Linked DNA regions of Homo sapiens. The protein of the gene in region 2 purifies or fractionates together with the protein of the main gene of each other region. This does not show direct contact. Each region holds a gene or a part of one and is shown on either strand. Other genes may lie near its edges.

Evidence for each region. Proteins that work in one complex are often made in the same cells at the same time.
Region 1: the proteins of ADK (region 2) and NNMT fractionate together in Homo sapiens (co-fractionation; one large-scale study listed by BioGRID). This does not show direct contact.
Region 3: the proteins of ADK (region 2) and NQO1 fractionate together in Homo sapiens (co-fractionation; one large-scale study listed by BioGRID). This does not show direct contact.
Region 4: the proteins of ADK (region 2) and AIF1L fractionate together in Homo sapiens (co-fractionation; one large-scale study listed by BioGRID). This does not show direct contact.

The regions. Positions count from the first base shown.
Region 1 is NC_000011.10:114,299,399-114,302,898, reverse strand, and holds part of NNMT (nicotinamide N-methyltransferase), read right to left. Parts: intron 1-3,500. UniProt on the Homo sapiens protein: Catalyzes the N-methylation of nicotinamide using the universal methyl donor S-adenosyl-L-methionine to form N1-methylnicotinamide and S-adenosyl-L-homocysteine, a predominant nicotinamide/vitamin B3 clearance pathway.
Region 2 is NC_000010.11:74,154,221-74,158,340, reverse strand, and holds part of ADK (adenosine kinase), read right to left. Parts: intron 1-4,120. UniProt on the Homo sapiens protein: Catalyzes the phosphorylation of the purine nucleoside adenosine at the 5' position in an ATP-dependent manner. Serves as a potential regulator of concentrations of extracellular adenosine and intracellular adenine nucleotides.
Region 3 is NC_000016.10:69,716,561-69,720,060, forward strand, and holds part of NQO1 (NAD(P)H dehydrogenase [quinone] 1), read right to left. Parts: intron 1,975-3,500; coding exon 1,810-1,974; intron 1,694-1,809; coding exon 1,563-1,693; intron 1-1,562. UniProt on the Homo sapiens protein: Flavin-containing quinone reductase that catalyzes two-electron reduction of quinones to hydroquinones using either NADH or NADPH as electron donors.
Region 4 is NC_000009.12:131,113,531-131,117,030, reverse strand, and holds part of AIF1L (allograft inflammatory factor 1-like), read right to left. Parts: intron 2,455-3,500; coding exon 2,413-2,454; intron 1-2,412. UniProt on the Homo sapiens protein: Actin-binding protein that promotes actin bundling. May neither bind calcium nor depend on calcium for function.

The sequences.
Region 1 (3,500 bases), on a different chromosome or scaffold from region 2:
TGGCAGAAGGAGAGCTAGAGAGCTCTATGGGGTTCCTTTTATAAGGGCACTAATCCCATTCATGAAGTCTCCACCTCCATGACCTAATGACCTTTCAAAGCCCCGACCTCTTAATACCATCATAAGGGGGTTAGGATTTCAACACAGAAATTGGGAGGGAGGGATAAAAACATTCAGTCCAAAATTCCTATGTTTAATATATATTGTTATATACATTGTTTAAAACTGTATACTGACTTATGTGACTATACTTAACACTATTCAACTAACACTTAAACATAGTAAAGATGGTAAATTTTATTTTAAAAATCAAAATTAAAAATAAGACAATAAAAATAAATAAAATCACTACTAACTAAAGCAAAACTAATAACAATATATGTATTATAGTGTTATACATAGAAATAAAATACATGACAAGAACATAAGGGCCAGGAAAGTCGGTTAAGGAAATTACACTTTTGGAATATCTTACATCCTTCATGAGACAATAGATATGTCAAGGATGCATATTGCAATTCCTAGAAAAACCACACAAACTCACACAAGACACAGAAGAGGTTAACAGGGGAGATAAAAAATAAATACTAAAAATATGTACACTTATACTAAATGGAATACTAAAAATTACTGCATTCACCAAGGGAAAACAGGAAGAAAGACACAGGTGAACAACAATCAGATGGGACAGATAGAAATCATATACCAAGATGGTAGATTTAAATTCAACCCTGTAATATTAGTAATTACATTAAATGTAAATGGACTAAACAATCCAGTTAGAGGCAGAAATTGTCAGTCTGGATTAAAAAGAGAAAACATAATCTGAAAACAGAAGGGTAGAAAAAGATATGTAGATATATCATGTATATTAGTTATATGTAACTGCAGGATAAATTATCCCCAAAATTTAGCAGCTAAAAATGACAAACACTTATTTCTCTGTTTTTTCTGGTTCAACTGGGGGAAATTTGGTTCCAAGCTCACTCCCCAGGACAAGAGAGTGAGATAGAGACAGAATACCCAATAAAAAGCTGTCATTTTTTAAAAATTGATTTTGTTTTTTACAGCAATATTAGGTTCACCGCAAAATCAAGCAGAAGGCCTACATTGGCATACCATTATCACCCAAAGTCTGTAATCTACGTTAAGATTCACTCTTGGTATTGTACATTCCATGGATTTGGACAAATATATAATGACATGTGTCCACCATTATAGTACTGTACAGAGTAGTCTCACTGCTCTAAAAAATCCTCTATACTCCACCTATTTATCTCTCCCTCCCCGACCCCTAGCAACCACTTATCTTCTTTACTTCTTCCCTAGTTTTGCATTTTCCAGAATGTCATATAGTTGGAATCATACATGTAGCCTTTTAAGATTGGCTTCTTTCAATTAGTAATTGTATTTACATTTCCTCCATGTCTTTTCGTGGCTTGATAGCTCATTTCTTTTTAGCACTGGATATTATTCCATTGTCTAAATGTACCACAGTTTATTTATTCATTCGCTTACTGAAAGACATCTTGGTTGCTTCCAATTTTTGGCAATTATGAATATAGCTACTATAAACATCTGTGTGCAGCTTTTTGTGTAGACATACCACAGCTTTTTGGGTTACATACTGAGGAGTGTAATACATGCAGCTTTCTGGGTTACATACCAAGGAGTGCAACTGCTAGATTGAATAGTTTTGCAAGGAATAGTCGAATTGTCTTCCAAAATGGCTACACCATTTTTAATTCCCACGAACAATAAATAAGAGTTCCTCTTTCCCCACAGCCTCATCAGCATTTGGTGTTGTCAGTCTTCCAGATTCTGGCCTAGATCTAATAGGTGTGTAGTGGTGCTGTAGTCCTTTTAATTTAATATCACAATTGATATCCCATCACTATGCTGCATTCTACCAAACTTGTCAGTACTGAATCACTAAATCCAGTGGATATTCTAGGGAAGGGGATTACACAAAGGTGAAAATACTGACACAAGGATTATTGGGGGCCATCTTAGAGGCTGCCCACCACACCATGCAAAACAGCAAGCATAGGAAGGGTGATGTAGCTATATTAACATCAGAAAAAGTAGACTTCAAGACAAATACATTGCTGGAAATAAAGGGAGATATTTCACAATGGTAAAGTGGTCAGTTCATCAAGAAGACATAACAATCCTAAAAATGTATATAACAGAGCTAAAAACAAGTGTCAAAATGCATATAGCAAATGTTGACAGAACTATAGGGAGCAAAGGATAAATCAACAATCATAGTTTGAGACATTAACACTCTCAGTAATTGACAGAGAAAGTAAACAAAACGTCAGTAAGGATGTAGAAAATTTGAATGATACTATCAACCTGCCTGACTTAATTGATATTTATAGAAACTATATCTACAACTGAACAATATACACTCTTTTCAATGTAGAAAGCACATAGAACGTTTACTGAGATAGACCATATGCAGAGCCACAAAATAAATCTCTGACTACAACAAAATTTAATTTGAAAGCAATAACAATAAGATAGCTAGAAAAATCCCAATACTTTGGAAATTAAGCAACATAATTCTAAATAATTCATGGTCAAAAAAGAAATTACAAAGGAAATGAGACAATATGCTGAATTTGAAAATAATAAAAATACCACATACAAGAATCATGGGATGCAGTTAAAACAGTGCTAAAGGAAATTTGCAGCATTAAATGCCTACATTAGAAAAAGAGATATGTGAAATAAATGATATAAGTTTCCAACTTAAGAAGCTAAAAGAAGAATTAAAAACAAGACATTTTAGAAAGCTAGAAAAAAATAAAGTAAACTAGAAAAGAATTAAAATTAAAATAACTAGAAGAAAGAAAGTGATCAAAAATAAGAGCAGAAAGCAATGAAATAGAAAATGGACAGACAATAGAGAAAAATCAACATAGCCAAAAGTTGGTTTTTGGAAAAGATTAATAAAATGATCAATCTGTAGCAAGGTTGATCAAGACAACAGAAAGAAAACAAGACAAATTACCAATATCAAGAATGAAAGAGGAGAGATCACTACAGATCCTACAGACATAATAAGGTATTAAAAGGATATTGTAAAAAAAAAAAAATGCCAATAAAGTTGACAACCAAGATAAAAAGGACAAACTTCTTGAAAAGTACCACTTACCAAAACAGACAAAAGAACAAACGGAAAATCCAAGTAACCATTAAAGAAATACTGTTTTTAATAAAGTCTTCTCTCGCACAAAAATTTCAGATTCACCTGGCTTCGCTGGTAAATGCTATCAATCATTTAAGAAGGAAATTATACTAATAATACTCAAACTCTTTCAGAAAATAGAAGAGGGGATATCACTCCCAACTCATTTTATGACTCCAGCCAGCATCATGCTGATATCAAAATTTGTGAAGCACACTAGAAGAAAATTATAGCTCAATTATACTTCATGACCAAGTAGTTTATGCCACTTTGGTGTAACATTCAAAATTTTCCAATGTAATTC
Region 2 (4,120 bases):
TATTTGGTATCCCAGAGGTCCATTCTGTAAAGATAATATTTAGCCACACAGCACTTGGCCACTTATATATTCAGTGTACTTCAAGTCTCTCCAACTTAAAAGCAAGATTCCTAATATGTTCAGTGTAGAAACATTGGAAAATACAAGTTTTTTTTTAAACCTCATAATTCTTCCACCTAAAGATGCCCACTATTAAATTTGGAGTGTCTAAATTTTCAGTCTTTCTATAATAGATACATTAATATAATTAGCAAGAAAATCTCTGAAGTTTTAGTTTATATTTTTGTTTCCATCTTACTAGATACATATAATGCCCTTTCAAGCTGAGAACTGGTCTTTCTTAAATTTTGGTAAATTCTCAGCCATCAGCTCTTCCAACCTGGCTTCTCCACCATTCACATTATTTCCTCTTTTTGGAACTCCCAGTTAGATGTAAGTTGGTGCCTCTCAATTTATGGAGTTGCGCTGTTGCCCAGGCTGGAGTGCAATGGCACGATCTCGGCTCACCCCAACCTCCACTTCCCGGGTTCAAGAGATTCTCCTGCCTCAGCCTCCTGAGTAGCTGGGATTATAGGCATGGACCACCACATCCAGCTAATTTTGTATTTTTTTTTTTTTTTTTTTAGTAAAGATGGAGTTTCTCCATGTTGGTCAGGCTGGTCTCAAATTCCCAACCTCAGGTGATCTGCCCGCCTTGGCCTCCCAAAGTACTGGAATTACCGGCATGAGCCATCACGCCCAGCTCATATTTGTTAATTCCTATTTATTTCTCTGTGATACATCTGGGTACTTTCTTCCAATTCATTAATTTTCCCTTCAAATTTGTCTGGTCTAGAGTTCAACTGACCTATTTTTTTTTTAATTTCAATAATTCCATTTTTTCTTTAATATAGCCATCTATTTCATATCTACCTATTTTTGATTCATGTTTTTTTATGACCATTATTTCTTTTATCTTTTTTAAGGATCTTTAAAATACTTACAATTGTTTTGAAATTACCCATATTTCCATCAGATTTTTTGTGAATTTATCTCTTGGTAACTGTGTTAATTTTCTAAGTAATGGTCTTCCTCGTGTGTTTATAGGCTCAGACATTCCCTCTTTTCCCAGGGGTTCTGTGATAGGCCACCCCTCTTCCAGAGTCCACGACCTCCAAGCTTGGTGCTCTTGTACTAGCTGATAGTGGGGAAACCACAGTTCCTGACTCTGAGCCATCTGGCAGCTCAGCCACTTCTGCATCTTCACTCCAGGTCCACAGCTTTTTAAAGCAACAGCCAAGAGCAGATGTTTTCAGCCCTCTTTCATCCAGTCTCAGCCCAGCTTCAGTTTCATACAGAGCATCTGACCCTAGGTCCCCTACATGTTATTTCTACTAGCTCCTGAACCCAGAGTCTAACTGCATGTTTCTTTTCTGTTCTTGGTCCCTGGAGATGTTTATCTTGTTCTTGAGTATATCTATATCTTTTCCTTTCCTTTTTAAATTTTTAATTGCTGCGTTTCCCTCTCAACATCCTTATGAGGTTCGTACTATTACTATACCCATTTTACAGGTGAGAAAAGAGGTATGGGGCAAGTAGCCAATCTTCCCGAGATCACTAGCTAATAAGGATCAAGGGTCAAACCAGATAGCTGATGCCAGAGACCATGCTCTTAACCACTGCTCTACTGGGATCCATTCTGACCAGAATGCTCTTTAAAATTTTGATACTTTTTTTCCCCCACCTAACTGTAAACACTTTGGACACAGGAAAGATATTTTGTTTTCTTTTTTTGAGACAGAGTCTTGCTGTTACCCAGGCTGGAATGTAGTAGTGCCAGTGCCTCAGCTTCCAGAGTGGTTGGGACAACAGGAACCTGCTGCCATGCCTGGCTAAGTTTATTTTTGTAGAGCTAGGGTCTCACTATGTTGCCCAGGCCAGTCTAGAACTCCTGGCCTCAAGCAATCCTCCCACCTTGGCCTCCCAAAGTGCTGGGATTACAGGCATGAGCCACACCATGTGGCCAGGATTTTAATTGATGGAAGTAAAGCAAAGACATATTCCAGGTAAAAAAAAGCAGCACATCAGCCTCATGTTTTATTTGAGGCTGAATATTCAGTCTAGGCCTGTACCCAAAATAAGAAACATAGTCTTCAATGCCCCTTGTTTTCCTAAGGCCCTTCCCACTTTCCCTGAGTTTCAAGCACTTCCATGCTTGTCCCTGGATACCCAGAACCATCCATGCAAGCTTTCCTCTGGCTCTCTCTACCACCCTCACGCTGCACTAGTATATATTGCCCAGGAAAGGATCTTATTAAGGCATTCATACTAAGTGCATTAGGGGACTTTTGTTTTCCATTCCTTCATAGCCCAAAGCCTTAATCTTAAAGGATTAAATTTGCGAATATAAGTAAAAGGCATGCAATATCATCCAAAAATAACCAAACTCTTTCAATAGTAGATTATCATGATGAAAAAAGAAAATAGTAGCAAAGCTCAATTTTAGGCTGCATTATTAAAAGTATAGGGTCGCCGGGCACGGTGGCTCACCCCTGTAATCCAGCACTTTGGGAGGCTGAGGCGGGTGGATCACGAGGTCAGGCGATCAAGACCATCCCGGCTAACACGTCTCTACTAAACCCCGTCTCTATTAAAAATACAAAAAATTGGCCGGGCGTGATGGCAGGCGCCTGTAGTCCCAGCTACTCAGAGGCTGAGGCAGGAGAATGGCATGAACCCGGGAAGCGGAGCTTGCAGTGAGCCGAGACTGTGCCACTGCACTCCAGCCTGGGCGACAGAGCGAGACTCTGTCTCAAAAACAAAAACAAACAAACAAAAAAATATATATATAGGGTCTAGAAAAATGAAAGTTATCAGTGCCACTCTATGCAACAAACATTAATTAAGGCCAGGCTTGGTGGCTCACACGTGTAATCCCAGCACTTTGGGAAGCCAAGGAATCCTCCTGCCTCAGCCTCCTGTGTAGCTGGGACCACAGGCTTATGCCACCATGTCCAGCTAGTTTTTGTTTCGTTTTTTTTAAAGATTCGAGGGTCTCATTTTGTTGCCCAGACTGGTCTCGAACTTCTGGGTTCAAGCAAACCTCCCACCTTGGCCTCCCAAAGTGCTGGAATGTAGGTGTGAGCCACCATGCCCAGCTCCTAGGTTTAATTTTAGAACACAGGGTCCATAGTGAGGTAGGAGATAGAGGAAAATAATAAAAGGGGTCCATGGAAGTGAAACAGTTAGGAAGCAATATTTGAGAAAAGCTCAGCATTTGCTGATTAGAGAACTGTAGTTTGTTTCCTTTTTAGTACTATTAAAAGTCATGATCCTTAATAATCCTTAATTGCTAATGTCAGATGGAGTAATGATATGGGCTTTCAGGATTCAACGTTTCCTAACATCAACTTCAGAGTTTACAAATATTTGCCGTGATGAATAAGTAGAGCTGTGCCTAAAGAAAAGTAGGCAGAACTTGAGGCTGAAGGTAAAGAGACTGCTTAGGAAGTCAAAACAAAATCTAAGCAAAAGATAAAGTCTAAACGTAAGGTGTGGCAGCAGGAATGGAAAAGGAAAGACATTATAATGTGGATGTAAAATGAATCAAATATCTAGGTCTCAAACTTTGGAGTAAAGGAGGTTACTGGTGCCATTAACAGATGCAGGAAATATGGAAAAATGCACAGATTCAGGATAACAGATAATTTAGTTTGGTATATATGACTTCGAAATGTCAGAAAGTCACTCAGAAGCACATACTCAGCAGACAGTAAAAATTAAGGTCTGGGAAGGCAGGGCACGGTGGCTCACACCTGTAATCCCAACACTTTGGGAGGCTGAGGCAGGTGGATCGCTTGAGGTCAGAAGTTCAAGACCAGCCTAGCCAACATGGCAAAATCCCGTCTCTACTAAAAATACAAAAATTAGCCAGGCATAGTGGTGTACGCCTGTAATCCCAGCTACTTGGGAGGCGGAGGCAGCAGAATTGCTTGAACCCAGGAGGCAGAGGTTGCAGTGAGCCGAGATGGTGCCACTGCACTCCAACCTGTGCGCCAGAGTGAGACTCCAACTCAAAAATATATACAAAATTAAATTAAATTAAGATCTGAGAACTGAGAGGCACAGAGATAGAAAGGAC
Region 3 (3,500 bases), on a different chromosome or scaffold from region 2:
AAGGTTCATCAGGGACTTCCCATGAGAAAGTCTTGTCTGACCTCTTATCCTAATAAAAGCAGAGTAAGGACTATACCAGGAGGTTTTCTTATCCTTGATTCATGATTTAAAGATATGAAAGGCACATGCCTATAATCCCAGCCTTTTGGGAGGTCCAGGCAGGCAGATCACTTGAGCCCAAGAGTTTGAGACCAGCCTGGGCAACATGGTGAGACCCTATTTGTACAAAAAAATTAAAAAATTAGCAGGGCATGGTGGTGTGCACTGATAGTCCCAGCTATTCGGGAGACTGAGGTGGGAGGATCATTTGAGCCCAGGAGGTTGAGGCAGCAGTGAGCAGAGATCATGCCACTGCACTCCATCCTGGGTGACCGTGAGACCTTGTCTCCAATTTAATTTTTTTTTAAAGCCGTCCTTTGGGGTACTGGCTAGTGGCATGTGGCTTTGATTCTTAGCAACAGGCCTGTGGGTAAAATAAAGGACTTCAAGGATTGGATGTTTTGTAGCTGATTGAATAACTAAAAAAAAAAAAGAGAGAGAGAGAGAAAAAAAAAACACAGCCTGTACCACCCTCCTCGTGGTTTCCAGGATCATATACATTCTATGTTCAATATCAAAAGACTGGCTGGAATTGTAAAAGCAAAGTCATTGAGTACAGTCACATTTATAGGAAAGATCACTGACGAGATGCACGCACAATCCCAGCATTGTCTGCTAAACGGTAAGGCAGCTTCCCGAAGAAGAAAGGCCGTGGTTTGCTGCAGGAACACATTCAGCAGGGTTTCAAAGCCCCCTTCAGCTGGCAGGCTACAATGGCAGAGAAGTCAATGTCTCATGGATTATTCTACAAAGTATTTGGGATTCTTATGGAGAAAGGAGGAGAACTGCAAATTTTGAGAGAGTCCAACAGGAATCGCTAACCGCAGGATTCGCTAACTGAAGGAATCGCTAACTGAAGGAATCGCTAACTGAAGGGGAGACTAAGTACCTGGAAGAAAGCAAGCTCAAGGACTGTACATCATCTCTGCAGCTGCATTTCTTTCTTTCTTTTTTTTTTTTTTTTGAGACAGAATCTCGCTCTGTCGCCATGTCACCAGGATGGGGTGCAGTGGCGCAATCTTGGTTCACTTCAACCTCCACCTCCCGGGTTCAAGTGATTCTCCTGCCTCAGCCTCCAGAGTAGCTGGGACTACAGGCACATGCCACCACGCCCAGCTAATTTTTGTACTTTTAGTAAAGACAGGGTTTCACCATGTTGGTCAGGATGGTCTTGGTCTCTTGACCTTGTGATTCACCTGCCTTGGCCTCCCAAAGTGCTGGGATTACAGGCGTGAGCCACCGTGCCTGGCCTTGCAGTTGCATTTACACATGCAACAGTAATACAGCCAGATTCCCAATATCTGTGAAATCCATGTAATACTGCACCTTTAAAGTAATCACCCTTATTTGCAGAGAATGCAGTAAAGTGGGTAACTGTTTAAGATCTCATAGCTAATTAGGTACATGTCTAGGACAATAAGCACGCAAATGTCCCTGACACCCCTTCCGATGTCCCCCCATACCTGGAATATCACAAGGTCTGCGGCTTCCAGCTTCTTTTGTTCAGCCACAATATCTGGGCTCAGATGGCCTTCTTTATAAGCCAGAACAGACTCGGCAGGATACTGAAAGTTCGCAGGGTCCTTCAGTTTACCTGCAGAGAAGAAAAAGAGAGGCTGGGGCCAGAGGGGCCAAAGCTGGGCCAGAGGACCCACAGGCAAGGAGATCCGCAAAGAACTAATTAAAGAGGGGAGGAGGAACTCCTCCTACCTGTGATGTCCTTTCTGGAAATGATGGGATTGAAGTTCATGGCATAGAGGTCCGACTCCACCACCTCCCATCCTTTCTTCTTCAAAGCCGCTGCAGCAGCCTCCTTCATGGCATAGTTGAAGGACGTCCTCTCTGAGTGAGCCAGTACGATCAGTGCTCTTCTGCCTACAGAGACACACACAAAGCACACACGGAAAACCCATTACCAACCAGCAAACCTTCAGCTACAGGGGAGTTGCAGTCTGTAAAGGAGGGGGCGGCTTTGTTTGACATTAGGTTATTGCATTCCATCTCCTGTAGCCAGAAATGTATTTTCCCCTTAAAAGCACTGAAGATTAAAGGAAGCATTTAAATCAGTGGCTGATTTAATAAATAATGTTGACAACTGGGCTCTGTGGCTCATAACTGTAATCCCAGCACTTTGGGAGGCCAAGGTGGGCAGATCACCTGAGGTCAGGAGTTTGAGACCAGCCTGGCCAACATGGTGAAACCCTGTCTCTACTAAAAATACAAAAATTAGCTGGGTGTGGTGGCAGGCACCTGTAATCCCAGCTACTTGGGAGGCTGAGGCAGGAGAATCACTTGAACTCGGGAGGGGGAGGTTGCAGTGAGCCAAGATTGCACCATTGCACTCCAGCCTGGGTGACAATGGGAGACTCCGTCTCAAAAAAAAAAAAAGATGCTCTGCGTGACCTGTCAGGAAAAGCAAAATTAAAATGAGACATTTACCCATTCGTTTACATGGGTACTGTGTTTACATTTACCGTGAGTTTACATTTACCCACAAAATGTAAAACAAATAACACCCAGGGTTATTAAGATTGTACCAACAGAAAAATTGGCACCTTACTGGTGGGGATAAGAACTGCCTCAACCTTTAGGGAAAGTAATGAGGCAGAATCTCTTGAAACTTTAAAGACACATAAATCTTTTATCTCGCTCTCCAATTTGGGGGAATCTGTTCTACAGACTAAAAGCTTCAGGCTATAAGAGCAAAGATGTGTATTACACCATGCTTTTCACTGGCAAAAATTAGATATAACCTGATTGTCTATGGGGAACATTTTAAGAAATTATGGGTACATCCACACTACAGGATATTTTGCTGTTAACAAGAATGAGTTGGCCAGGCACGGTGGTTCGAGCCTGTAATCCCAGCACTTTGGGAGGCTGAGGCGGGCAGGTCACGAGGTCAAGAGATCAAGACCATCCTGGCCAACATGGTGAAACCCTGTCTCTACAAAAATACAAAAATTAGCTGGGTGTGGTAGCGGGCACCTGTAATCCCAGCTATTCGGGAGCCTGAGGCAGGAGAATCGCTTGAACCCAGGAAGCAGAGGTTGCAGTGAGCTGAGATCTTGCCACTGCACTCCAGCCTGGGTGACAGAGTAAGACCCTGTCTCAGAAAAATAAATAAATTAAGATAAAAGTAAAAAATATATAAAAAAGAATGAGTTAAACTGGCTGGGCACAGTGGCTGGAGCCTGTAATCCAGCTACTTGGAAGGCTGAGGCGGCAAGATCCCTTGAGGCCAGGAGATGGAGACCAGCATGGGCAGCATAGTGACACCTTGTCATAAAAAAAAATTTTTAGAGACTGTTGACCAGGTACGGTTGCTCACGCTTCTAATTCCAGCACTTTGGGAGGCCAAGGCGGGAACATTGCTTGAGCCCAGGAGTTCAAGACCAGCC
Region 4 (3,500 bases), on a different chromosome or scaffold from region 2:
TTGTTCTCCAGTGAACAATGGGTCATCTAAGGATGGCAGGAGAGGGCTGGGGTAGGGGCCATGGGCCGTGGCGCAGCCAATGCTCCTCCTGGCAAGGCGGGCGGGACTGGGGCCAGGCCCAAAGGTGCCAGGATGTCCACGCATTCAGAGAGAGCTGGGCAGCCTTCTCCAGGAAAGGGGGAAAGGGCTGCACACGCACTGCCAGACTCTGAAGTTGGCAGGACCTTTCTCGGGCAGTTCGGCAAGATGCTTCAAAAGCCTTTGACCCAGTGTCCCCTTCCTGAGATTTCCTCTACAGAAATAACCAGGGAGGTGAACAAGCACTCATGTACAAAGAGGTTCTTTACAGGATTATCAATAATAGTTAAAATTGGAAGGCATCCAAATGGTCCACACAAAGGCATCGGCTAAACAAATTAGAATCCATTCCTACAATGCAGCCATTAACTATATTTCAAAAGAAAAATCAGCTGGCGCCATGGCTCATGCCTGTAATCCCAGCACTTTGGGACGACGAGGCAGGCGGATCACTTGAGGCCAGGAGTTTGAGTCCAGCCTGGCCAACATGGTGAAACCTCGTCTCTACTAAAAATACGAAAATTAGCCGGGCGTGGTGGTGCGTGCCTGTAATCTCAGCTACTTGGGAGGCTGAGGCAGGAGAACCGCTTGAACCTGGGAGGCTGAGGATGCAGTGAGCCAAGATTGTGCCACTGCACTCCAGCCTGGGCAACAGAATGAGACTATGTCTCAAAAAAAGAAAGAAAAATCAATAATAAATCAAAATACTCACCATTGTTTTATTTCACTTATTTTTTCTGGCCGGGCTGACCAATAGAAAGTTATTTTTTTCAAGGAGGCTCAAAAATGATATAAAACAGCTTTTGTGATTAGAATAAAGAGTGGAAGGCTAGAAACGGAAATGTTTGTAGCAGTTACTTCTGGGAGGTGGGGTTGTGGGTGATGCATTTTTGTCTTTTTGTCTTGCTGTGTTTCCCCAATTTTTTTAATGATGAAAATGTGTTTATTTGATAAGCCAAATTTTTTTTTTTTTTTTTTGAGACGAAGTCTTGCTCTTGTCCCCTAGGCTGGAGTGCAATGGTGCAATCTGGGCTCACTGCAACCTCCACCTCCTGGGTTAAAGCAATTCTCCTGCCTCAGCCTCCCGAGTAGCTGGGATTACAGGCATCTGCCACCATGCCCGGCTAATTTTTGCATTTTTAGTAAAGATGGGGTTTCACCATGTTGCCCAGGCTGGTCTCGAACTCCTGATCTCATGTGATCCGCCCGCCTTGGCCTCCCAAAGTGCTGGGATTACAGGCGTGAGACACTGTGCCTGGCCAAATTTTCTTTCTAAAGAAAAAAAAAAATGATCAAAATATTCTAAAGGGAGAAGAAAAGAGAGAGGACAGAGGAAGAGGAGTAGAAATGCCGGTAGCAGCATCAATCTGAGACGCAGGATGAAATGGAAAAGGGGGAAACTGTTCAGAAACCAACGGCTGGGCCCTGGTTCACTGCCAGTGTTCCATGTAAGCAAGTCATTTCACCTTTCTTTTTGCTTTTTTTTTTTTTTTTTTTTTTTTTGAGACAGAATCTCGCTCTGTCACCCAGGCTGGAGTGCAGTGGCACAATCTTGGCTCACTGCAACCTCCGCCTCCTGGGTTCAAGCAGTTCTCCTGCCTCAGCCTCCCGAGTAGCTGGGATTACAGGCACCCGCCACCACACCCAGCTAATTTTTGTATTTTTAGTAGAGATGGGATTTCGTCATGTTGGCCAGGCTGGTCTTGAACTCCTGACCTCAGGTGATCCCCACGCCTTGGCCTCCCAAAGTGCTGGGATTACAGGCTTGAGCCATGGCGCCCGGCCCATTTCACCTTTCTGAGTCTTGCTTTCCTCATCTGTAAAATGGGGATAATTAAACCAGCCTTAACCACTTCTTTGCGGGTGAGGTCCAGGTATGGTCTCCTACCAGAACGTAAGTGCCAGTAGCTGCACAGCAGGATGCAATAAGGAGAGAATCAACGTATATAAAAGCAACTTGTCAACTGCCGAATGACATACAATGGAAAGACAGACTTCAGGGCCACTGAAATGCCAGCCAGGAGGCCCAGGGCCTGTCCACCCTGAGTGTCTCCAGCCCTGGGCAGGTGTGGCACCCTCTGTCCTGAGTCCCCGTAGCACCTGGGGTGGGAGGCTGAGGTGTGGGTGGGGAGGGAAGCAGTAGGGGATCAAAGGGTCTGGAGGAGTCTGAGGGCAGTGGTGCCAGGGCAGAAGGCAAGGGGCTGGGGCTGGCTCGGCGCAACATATTCACCAGCCTTCCGGACTGCCCCATGCCCCTCACCCGCACAGAGGGTCCCTCAAGCCCTCTACCCACTTAACACCCTCCTCCCTAAACACACTCAAGGCTTCACTCACCAATCTCGCCTTCATTGTTCAGGTCAAACTCCATGTACTTCTCTGGAAATCACAGAGCAAAAACTAGCATTAGTTTGGAAGCAGCGTCTCCCTGTGGGGACCCAGTGGCTCCCTTGTGGGCAAATGACCGTGTCCTCAGGAGTCTGAACCACCTCCCGCACCCTACCAAGGGTCTTGACCTGAGTCCCCCATCCGCTGAGCCATGGCCTCTGGGGAAAGAGCTCATCCTGCCTGGACTACTCTCCTAGAGGTGCCACGAGGGAAAGATGGCTGGGGGCCACTCTGACCCTCTTACCAGGAGGGCAGCTGCTTTCTCCCGGGTCCCCAGCAGCACAGACCAGCTGCATCTGAGTTAGTAGCAAAGTGACTAGCTCTGATTCCCTGCCCCAGGATTCTGGCTCATGGGTGTGGAAGGACAGGGTGGGGGCAGGCATGGGTGTGCTTTTTAGCGTCCCAGGCAGTTCTGATGGGCAACCGGGTGTGGGAACCACTGATTCAGGGGACCTGTGATTCTGAAACCAGGAAAAAGGCCTGCCCTAGCCCACAAAGTGGACATACAGTTTCCCGGGGTACACAGACCATCACCCCAAACCTCACACACAGACTGAGTTATACTTCCCTGATCAAGGAGTCCAGGAAAACTTCTAGCAGTGAGGGAGGATGTCGGAGCAGTGGGCTTGGTATGTTCAGATGGGAGCAGTGTGTCAAACGGACCGTGGGGCCTCTGCAGGTCACCCCCTGCCCGGGCAGAGTGGGGCCCTCATGGTCCATCCTGCCCCACAAGCAGCCAGCAGAGAAAGCCGAGGCCCTCCTGCAGGCTGTGCTGCCCCCGCCCACTCCCTGCCTGCTCCAGCTCGCTGCCCCTCTGCCTGGAATGTTCTCCCAAGTATTCTCAGCACCCTTCCTCATGGCTTCAGGGCTCCCCACCCTTTCTTTTTCTTCTTTTTTTTAGAAGGAGTCTTGCTCCATCTCACTTTGTCACACAAGCTGAAGTGTAGTGGCGTGATCTCAGGGGGGATACACAGCTCACCTAGGGCAGAGTTGGGACTTGAACCCATGTTAGTCTGGCTCCAAAGCCCCCGTTCTTA